Linked DNA regions of Homo sapiens. The protein of the gene in region 1 purifies or fractionates together with the protein of each later gene. This does not show direct contact. Each region holds a gene or a part of one and is shown on either strand. Other genes may lie near its edges.

What was found.
Region 2: the proteins of OR52B2 (region 1) and C1orf198 purify together in Homo sapiens (affinity purification with mass spectrometry; one large-scale study listed by BioGRID and IntAct). This does not show direct contact.
Region 3: the proteins of OR52B2 (region 1) and ZNF627 purify together in Homo sapiens (affinity purification with mass spectrometry; one large-scale study listed by BioGRID and IntAct). This does not show direct contact.

The regions. Positions count from the first base shown.
Region 1 is NC_000011.10:6,168,739-6,171,864, reverse strand, and holds OR52B2 (olfactory receptor 52B2), read left to right. Parts: upstream 1-1,538; coding exon 1,539-2,510; downstream 2,511-3,126. UniProt on the Homo sapiens protein: Odorant receptor.
Region 2 is NC_000001.11:230,840,961-230,844,614, reverse strand, and holds part of C1orf198 (uncharacterized protein C1orf198), read left to right. Parts: intron 1-718; coding exon 719-1,261; intron 1,262-3,654.
Region 3 is NC_000019.10:11,603,844-11,607,497, reverse strand, and holds part of ZNF627 (zinc finger protein 627), read right to left. Parts: intron 3,289-3,654; exon of another isoform or gene 3,134-3,288; intron 1-3,133. UniProt on the Homo sapiens protein: May be involved in transcriptional regulation.

The DNA.
Region 1 (3,126 bases):
GTTACCTAGGCAGGTCTTGAATACCTGGCCTCAAGCGATCCTCCCATCTTGGCCTCCCAAACTTCTGGGATTATAGGCATGAGACACTGTGCCTGGCCCAAATATTTAAAATATACTGACTTGAATGCTGTCAGATTATTAGCCTGCCTGCGGCCTTTACTTGTCTGGATCTGGCTCTATTCCCTTCCTTGTACCCATCTGGAGTCCCATTGCTCCCTCCCCACAGCCCACTGTGCTCTGAGAAAGTTCATTTGCATAGAGGCAGAGGGATGGACTAATAAACTGAGGATTTGATTCCTTTGCATCTCTTCTTTGGGGCCCTCTGAATACCATTATCAGAAGATCAGTCTAGTGTTTATTTGGTACCTTTATAGTTCTGATTCTCTCTTTACTGTCTCTGTGGTCCCTTTTCTTCATGTTCCCTTCTAGATTCTTAATCATACACTCTTTCCCTAGTCCTAATAGCTGACAGATAGTTCAGAACTTCAGAATGAAACAAATATTACCTGAGTGGCAGGCAAGCCAAGAAGGGCTCTATACTTAATCCTTCTTGGCAGCAGGGAAACATGGTTCCTTCTGAGCGTTGGGGAACAGTGGGGTGGGAAGAAGGGCAGTATTAGTGGAGTCAGCAGAGTTTACAGGTGGGCAATAGATTGATTTCTTTTGCTCAGAATCGTTTTCCTGGGGGGCTTCTACAGATAAGGAAGCCCAGACATAACCAAGAGGCTCCTGTATAGAAATATTTGAGGAGGAGCATGAGAAGTCCATGAGGAGCTGGTGATGAAAATTGCCTGTCTCAGTTTCATTGGCTGCCCCATTGCTCACTGCATTAGGGAAGATATGAATCTGGATCAGAGTGGAGAAATGTACCCCTCTAGGCTTCCTCTGGATTCCCACTTGATACTCTACTCCCTTGCACAAGGGGCCAGAGGTGCAAGTGTCCTGTGAAATGTTCAAGGCAATAGCCAGATAAACTTAATAGGATTAAATATAACCCAGTTAAAATATAGTTTAGTTAATAGTTTTTTAGGAAGGAGATATATTGCTATGAACACAGACCATTACAAAGTGGTATGTCTTGAGGACTTATTTTAAGGTTAAAATTTTGTTAAACAGAAGTAGAAGGGGAGGGAAATTAAAGGTAAATGCAGAACAAAATCTTGGGGAAAGGGACAAGTACAACACAGGTAGGTGGAAAATGCTGCTTGTGTGGAAATAGTAGAATGAGGTCAGAAAGGGAGAGTGAGGCCAAACTCTGGGGGCAGGGTGGTTGCAGGAAGGTGCTGCCACTTCTGTTCATACTTGAAGCATTATTGCCACAGAAGCTCTATCTGCAAAGGAAGCACTATGGGCCAGAAGCCATTCCTATACCAAGTGAACATTCTCTGGGAGTACTTGCTGCTGGAGAGTCCAGCAATTTAGAAATCCATGCTGTCTTTTATGATATTTATACATATTCGGGAGTGCTTTCTGTTTCTATCACTTTCAGTAGACTCATCAGCTTCTAAGTCATTATAGAGAGGACCATAAAGTGCATCATGAGTCACACCAATGTTACCATCTTCCATCCTGCAGTTTTTGTCCTTCCTGGCATCCCTGGGTTGGAGGCTTATCACATTTGGCTGTCAATACCTCTTTGCCTCATTTACATCACTGCAGTCCTGGGAAACAGCATCCTGATAGTGGTTATTGTCATGGAACGTAACCTTCATGTGCCCATGTATTTCTTCCTCTCAATGCTGGCCGTCATGGACATCCTGCTGTCTACCACCACTGTGCCCAAGGCCCTAGCCATCTTTTGGCTTCAAGCACATAACATTGCTTTTGATGCCTGTGTCACCCAAGGCTTCTTTGTCCATATGATGTTTGTGGGGGAGTCAGCTATCCTGTTAGCCATGGCCTTTGATCGCTTTGTGGCCATTTGTGCCCCACTGAGATATACAACAGTGCTAACATGGCCTGTTGTGGGGAGGATTGCTCTGGCCGTCATCACCCGAAGCTTCTGCATCATCTTCCCAGTCATATTCTTGCTGAAGCGGCTGCCCTTCTGCCTAACCAACATTGTTCCTCACTCCTACTGTGAGCATATTGGAGTGGCTCGTTTAGCCTGTGCTGACATCACTGTTAACATTTGGTATGGCTTCTCAGTGCCCATTGTCATGGTCATCTTGGATGTTATCCTCATCGCTGTGTCTTACTCACTGATCCTCCGAGCAGTGTTTCGTTTGCCCTCCCAGGATGCTCGGCACAAGGCCCTCAGCACTTGTGGCTCCCACCTCTGTGTCATCCTTATGTTTTATGTTCCATCCTTCTTTACCTTATTGACCCATCATTTTGGGCGTAATATTCCTCAACATGTCCATATCTTGCTGGCCAATCTTTATGTGGCAGTGCCACCAATGCTGAACCCCATTGTCTATGGTGTGAAGACTAAGCAGATACGTGAGGGTGTAGCCCACCGGTTCTTTGACATCAAGACTTGGTGCTGTACCTCCCCTCTGGGCTCATGAATCTTCATGTCCAGCTCCTTCAAGGAAGCTAGATGTGAAATACAGAGATTTCCTGGACTGAGAAGGCTTTTCTTCCTCTTCTTTCTATTTCATCTTCCGCCCCCAACTTTTCTTTCTTTTCTCATAATTCTTCCTCCTTCTCTTGTTTGTTTTCTCTAACCTCTTTACATATTCCTCCCTACAACCCAGAAATAATAACTAAGTGTACATGCCTCTGATATGAGGCTTTGGTACCCTCAGTAGACTAGATAGACGCCAGAAGCGCAGGGATCTGAACACCACATGAAATGAGGTTATAAAGAAGTGGATAAAAATAATTTTATATTTACCATTTTAAGGGGTTTTAATTTTTTAAAAAAATCCCAAATGTGCATTGATTCTTTGTACAGAATCAAGTGGCCTGCCACCCACTACCACAATGGCAGGTGAGTTTGAGGAACAGCCATGCATGACCTTTGGTCATCTGGAAAAACTTCCTTTCCTTCAAATTTTAGTTCAAGAAAAGTTGAGTCTTTTCTAATTTCTCCAGGCAAGCCAAGGGTCCTATGTTTGCATGTCTAGTGTATCTTGTACAAATCTCCAAATGTGCATAATAAATTGTAATGTAATGAGTTGT
Region 2 (3,654 bases), on another chromosome or scaffold:
CAGGCAGAGAGCCCTTACTCATCGGTAATACTCAGATATCTTGAGCTGCATGTAGCATAGTGCATGAGGGAGTGTATCAGTGTGTTCTTGTGTTGTTTTAAAGAAATACCTGAGACTGGGTAATTTATAAAGAGAGGAGGTTTAATTGGCTCACGGTTCTGCGGGCTGCACAGGAAACATGGCATCGGCATCTGCTTGGCTTCTGGGGAGGCCTCAGGGGGCTGTGGCTCATGGTGGAAGGCGGAGGAGAGCAGGTATCTCACATGGCAGAGCAGGAGCAAGAGGGAGAGAGTCAGGGGGAGGTGCCACACCCTTTTAAACGACCAGATCTCATGAGGACTCACTATCATGAAGACAGCACCAAGCCATGAAGTCACCATCATGAAGACAACATCCGCCCCTGTGATCCAGACACCTCCCACGAGGCCTCACCTCCAGCACTGGGGATTACAGTTCGACATGAGATTTGGGAGGGGACCACCACCCACACTCTGTCACCCGGCCTTGGCATTTAAGCTTCTGATGCATTTCAGGTGTGCGATGGGAGTCCTGACCATACCCACCACTCAGGACAGACAGTTCCAGCACATGGGCAACAACTCGTGTGTGGCTGGTGTGCGTCCTTATGCTGAGGAGGGGTGCGTGAGCTGGCACACTTGTGACGGTCGATTCTCAGGATCTCTTTCTTTTTTCTGTCCTTTCTCATGTCCCACCCTAGAGTCAGATGGAGTTCAGTATCTCCGCCCTATCCATCCAGGAGCCGAGCAACGGCACCGCCGCCAGCGAGCCCAGACCACTGTCCAAAGCTTCCCAGGGCTCCCAGGCCCTCAAGTCCTCCCAAGGCAGCAGGTCCTCCAGCCTGGACGCCCTGGGCCCCACCAGGAAGGAGGAGGAAGCGTCATTCTGGAAGATCAATGCTGAGCGGTCCCGAGGGGAGGGGCCTGAGGCCGAGTTCCAGTCGCTGACCCCTAGCCAGATCAAGTCCATGGAGAAGGGGGAAAAGGTCTTGCCTCCCTGCTACCGGCAGGAACCTGCCCCGAAGGACAGGGAGGCCAAGGTGGAAAGGCCCAGCACCCTCCGTCAGGAGCAGCGTCCTCTTCCCAACGTGAGCACCGAACGTGAGAGACCCCAGCCTGTCCAGGCCTTCAGCAGTGCACTGCACGAGGCTGCCCCCTCCCAGCTCGAGGGGAAGCTGCCATCTCCTGATGTCAGGCAGGACGATGGGGAAGACACCCTGTTCTCGGAACCCAAGTTTGCACAGGTGAGTGGCCTTTACCAGCGCGTCCTCAGATGGGATGGTGCCTTATTCCACGGGAACCGAGAGGGTCCCCCACAAAGCAGGCAGGCCACAGGTGCCCATGCTCTTTTTCTTCTCCTTCCCCTGCCTCTTCCTCAGAGGATGCCTAGGCTCAGGGTGCTGAGCCACCAACAAATATGCAACAAGACAAGTTTTGCGAGTCCATCTGGGTGCCCTAATTTGTTTACCAGTCAGGGTTCCGTGGCCCACTGCGCTTTCCCCAGTGCGCGGGCTGCTATCAGAAGAGGCCCCTGGAAGGCGCTGCGCCCAGGGCTGTCACAGCTCAAAGCTGTGTTGGGCCTTCTTTTTGGGAGCTGTCCATAGAGGCAATGGTCTGTTCTTTAGGACTGGTCTGGATTTGGGCCAGGGGAGCTGCCTGTTGGCAAAGCAGGCAGGCACACTTGAGAGGCCTCACTGGGTCTTGCCCCTCTGTGGGCCTCGCTGGGCTCCTGGCTGCCTTGCTGAGGAGTGAGCCCAGGATGCAGTTGCCTCCATGGTAGCCTCACCCATCCTCCTCTGGCCCTTGAGACTCCTTGGTTCTTGTGGGTCACTCTTTTTTTTTTTAATTTTTATTTTTTAAATTTTTTATTTCCATAGGTTTTGGGTGGTATTTGGTGACATAAGTTCTTTAGTGGTGATGTGTGAGATTTTGGTGCACCCATCACCCGAGCAGTGGACACTGAACCCAATTTGTAGTTTTTTATCCCTCACCCACCTCCCACTCTTTCCCCGAGTCCCCAAAGTCCATTGTGTCATTCTTATGCCTTTGCATCCTCATAGCTTAGCTCCCACTTATGAGTGAGAACATATGATGTTTGATTTTCCATTCCTGAGTTACTTCACTTAGAATAATAGTCTCCAATTACATCCAGGTCGCTGCAGATGCCATTAATTCATTCCTTTTTTGGCTGAGTAGTATTCCATCGTATATATATACCACAGTTTCTTTATCCACTCATTGATTGGTGGGCATTTGGGCTGGTTCCATATACTGAATTTTAAAAGTTTTTATTATGGTAAAATATACAAACATTTACCATTTTAACCATTTTACAGTATAAATTTGGTGGCATTTCAGTACATTCTCAATGCTGTGTAACCATCACTACCATCCATCTCCAGAACTCCTTTCATCCTGCAGAACTAAAGCTCTGGACCCGTTCAACACTAACTTCTCATTCATCCCTCCCCGCAAGCTCCTGGCAACCACCATTCCACTTTCTGTGTCTGTGAATTTGACTCCTCTAGGTACCTCATATAAGTAGCACCATATAGTATTTACCCTTTTGTGACTGACTTACTTTACTTAATGTGACGTCTTCAAGGCTCATTCATGTTGTAGCAAGTGTAGAATTGCCTTCTAAGGCTAATATTCCATCGTGTGGTTAGACCACATTTTGTGTATCCACTCATCCATCGACAGACACTTGGGTTGCTTCCACCTTCTGGCTATTGTTGTCTGTTAGGAATAGTGCTGCTGTGAACGTGTATGTACAAATAAGTCTTCCAGCCCCTGCTTTCCCTTCTCCTGGGTGCATACCCAGATGTAGAATTGCTGGATCACATGGTGGTTCTATTTCTACTTTTTTGAAGAACCTGCATACTGTTCGCCACAGCAGCTGCGTCATTTTACATTCCCATCAATGTGGGTTCGCGTTTCTCCACTCCCTTGCAACACTTGTTATTTTCTGTGTCTTTGCTGGTGCCATGCGAAGGGGTATGAGGTGGTGTCTCACCGTGGTTTAGACTTGCCTGTCCATGATCGTGAATGATGTTGAGCCTCATTTCATGTGCTTATTGGCCATCTGTGTATCTTCTTTGGAGAAATGTCCAATGGTCCCTTGCCCATTTTTAAATTTTTGGTTATTTTGTTGTTGAGTTGAGATCATCACTGATAACATTGAATGTCCCCCAGAGCAGGTTTCCAGTACTTCCACACCTCCCTCGGCAGATGGCTGCACGTGCTGTCCTCCCGAGGAGGGAGGATCCAGCGGTGCTAGTACCTTCTGCCCACCTCGGCTCCACATCAGTGCTCTAGCCTGTCCTCTTCGTGTTTCTGCACCTTCTTAAGCTAGTGCTTTCAGCCCTCTTGTTTCCTGCCTTCTCCGGTACCTGCCCATCTCTCCGTTCTGTTTTCTGTCTCACATCCTCCTGCCCATCAGCTCCTCCTTACAGACAGGCTCAGTTCCCTGCCTCCCTAACCAGCACTCTTTCTCTGAGACTCGGCACTGAGGGCTTCCTCTGAAAGAAGTATTTCCATAAAATAGGTGATAGTCCCCACTCTAAAGAGAAGCAGGAACGTGTTTCTGTGTGGGCAGTGGAGAGTAGGAGACAGCACATGAAATTCCTTTGAGAGA
Region 3 (3,654 bases), on another chromosome or scaffold:
AGGTGACAGAACATTAAAGTTTGGAAAAATTGCAGCCTGACAATGGAACAGAAAAAAAAACCCAGCCAGGCGTGGTGGCTCATGCCTGTAATCCAGCACCTTGGGAGGCTGAGGCAGGCGGATAACCTGAGGTCAGGAGTTTGAGAGCAGCCTGAGCAACATAGAGAAACCCCTTCTCTACTAAATATATAGAATTAGCTGGCCGTGGTGGCACATGCCTGTAATCCCAGCTACTCGGGAGGCTGAGGCAGGAGAATCGCTTGATCCTGGGAGGTGGAGGTTGTAGTGAGCCAAGATTGCGCCATTGCACTCCAGCCTGGGCAACAAGAGTGAAACTCTGTCTCAAAAAAAAAGAAAAGAAAAGAAAAACCCATTTTCTGGGGAGAAATTCAAACCAGCTACAGAAATTTGTGAGTAACGAGAAGCCAAATGTTAATCACCAAGACAATGGAGAAAATGTCTCCAGGACACATCACAGACCTTCATGGCAGCCCCTCCCATCACAGGCCTAGAATCCTAAAAGGAAAAAATGGTTGGTTTCCTGGGCCTGGTCCAGGGCCCCTTGCTGTATGCACCCTAGGGACTTGGTTCCCTGTGCCCAGCCACTCCAGCCATTGCTAAAAGGAGGCAAGGTACAATTCGGGTCATGGCTTCGGAGGGTGCAAGCCCCAAGCCACAGCAGCTGCCATGTGGTGTTGGTCCTGTGGGTGCACAGAAGACAAGAATTGAGGTTTGGGAACCTCTGCCGAGATTTCAGAAGATGTACAAAAACGCCTGGGTGTCCAGGCAGAGGTGTGCTACAGGGGCGGAGCCCTCATGGAGAACCTCTGCTAGGGCAGCGCAGAAGAGAAATGTGGGAACTGGAGCCCCCACAGAGAGTCCCCACTGTGGCACTGCCTAGTAGAGCTGTGAGGAGAGGGCCACCATCCGTCCTCAAGAACCCCAGAATGGTCAATCCACTGACAGTTTGCACCACGCACCTGGAAAAGCCACAGACACTCAGTGCCAGCTGTGAAAGCAGCCAGGAGTGGGGGCTGTACCTTGCAAAGCCACAGGGGCAGAGGTGCCCAAGGTTGAGGGAGCCCACCTCTTGCATCAGCATGACCTGGATGTGAGACGTGGAGTCAAAGGAGATTCTTTTTTTCTTTCTTTTTTTTTTTTGAGACAGAGTCTGGCTCTATCACCCAGACTGGAGTGCAGTGGCATGATCTCGGCTCACTGGAACCTCCGCCTTCTGGGATCAAGCAATTCTCCTGCCTCAGCCTCCCGAGTAGCTGGGATTACAGGCGCGTGCCACCATGCCTAATTTTTTGTATTTTTAATACAGACAGGGTTTCACCATGTTAGCCAGGATGGTCTTGATCTCCTGACCTCATGATCCGCTTGCCTCGGCCTCCCAAAGTGCTGGGATTACAGGTGTGAGCCACCGCGCCTGGCCAAGGAGATTATGTCAAAGCTTTAAGATTTAATTACTGCCCTACTGGATTTGGGACTTGCATAGGGCCTCTAGCCCCTTTGTTTTGGCCAATTTCTCCCATTTGGAATGGGTATATTTACCCAATGACTGTATCTAGGAAGTAGCTAACTTGTTTTTGATTTTACAGGCTCATAGGCAGAAGGGACTTGCCTTGTCTCAGATGAGTTTGGACTTGTACTTTTGAGTTAATGCTGGAATGATTTAAGACTTTGGGGGACTGTTGGGAGGGCATGATTGTTTTAAAATGTGAGGATATGAGATTTGGGAGGGGCTGGGGGTGGAATGATATGGTTTGGCTGTGTCCCCACCCAAATCTCCTCTTGTAGTTCCCATAATCCCTGAATGTCATGGGAGAGAGCAAGTGGGAGATAATTTAATCATTGGGGTGGTTACCTCCATGTTGTTCTCATAATAGTGAGTTCTCATGAGATCTGGTTTTATAATGGGCTTCCCCCACCTTTCCCCCACCTTTAGTCTGCACTTCTCCTTGCTGCTGCCATGTGAAGAAGGACATGTTTGCTTCCCTTCCACCATACTTGTAAGTTTCCTGAGGCCTCCCCAGCCATACTGACCTGTCAATGAAATCTCTTTCCTTTATAAATTACCCAGTCTTGGGTATGTCTTTATTAGCAGCATGAAAACAGACTAATACAGAGCCCTGGGAAAAACTAGGCTGAAGAGGCTGGGCACGGTGGCTCATGAGGTCAGGAGTTCAAGACCACCCTGGCCAAGATGGTGAAACCTTGTCTCTACTAAAAATACAAAAAAAAATTAGTCAGGCCTGGTGGTGGGCACCTGTAACCCCAGCTACTTGGGAGGCTGAGGCAGAGAATTGCTTGAACCTGGGAGGCAGAGGTTGCAGTGAGCCATGATCGCACCACTGCACTCCAGCCTGGGTGACAGAGCAAGACTCCATCTCAAAAAAAAAAAAAAAAAAAAAGAAAGAAAGAAAAACTAGGCTGAAGAGGTCTCAAGTACTCCTTCCTTCACCAAACTTGAGTCAAGCTCCTCAGAGCCCTCTTTTTGACTAGGGCTTGGCACTGGCCTGCAGAAGTCAGTTTCAGCAAGAATCCATCTAAGGTAGTTTATAGAGACTCCTCCTACCTTAATATCCAATCAAGTTCTTTTTCTCCCACCTATGAGACCCAACCAAGTTCCATTCTCTCCCTCACCTTGTACATTGGCTATAAATCCAATAATATTCCTGCTGCATTCAAGGCTGAATTCAATCTCCCTCCCCTATTACAGCTGTCATGACTCACTGCAATTGTGCTTAATAAACTTTTCCTTGACATTCTTAACAAGTTTCCAGTGCAATCTCTCTTTAACAGGGAACAAGGCTGTAAACTTGAGACCCTGGTTCATTTATCTGAAATGCATAGGGGATGACAGGCTCCCTCCCACTGGGGATGAAGGAGCTGGGAACCACACATGCCATTCTGCTGGGCCCACCCAAGTCTGAATCCATGGAGGGGGAGGGTGTCCTGAGAGTACCTCCCACCCACAAACCCAAAACACCAGGCTCAGATTTCTCTCTGGATGGCCACTCCCTGTTGTCACCCCATGATCTGGGTGAGATCCAGGATTGCAGGTGCACAACTGCCCAGAGAGAGGTCCAGGAGGTAGACTGCCTCCTACAGTGATGGGACAGGATACCTGGGAGTCCTGGCTGCCAATTCAGCCCCCACCCTGATGGAGTGTGATGGAGGGGACTGAGACTCAGGCTGCTTCTGGATAAGATGCCCCACCAGACACAGGATTTGCAAGTCGTTCTTCCACTTGGTGAATTATCTTTTCAAGTTCTTGGTGTCCTTTGAAGAACAAAAATTACCAATTTTGATGAAGTGTAAACTTTAGTTAGTAACATATTGGCTCACCAATTCTGATCATCATCATATATGATATATTGGTTCATCAATTATATGATATATATGATATCATATTTACGTACTTTGGGAGGCCAGGATGGGAGAATCACTTGAGCCAGGAGTTAGAGATCAGCCTGGACAACATAGTGAGACCCCCATCTACCAAAAAAAAAAAAAATTAGCCAGATGTGGTGGTGCACACCTGTGGTCCCAGCTACTTGGGAGGCTGAGGCGGCAGGATCACTTGAGCCCTGGAGGTCTAGCCTGCAGTGAGCAGTGATCGCACCACTGCACTCAAGCCTGGGTGAC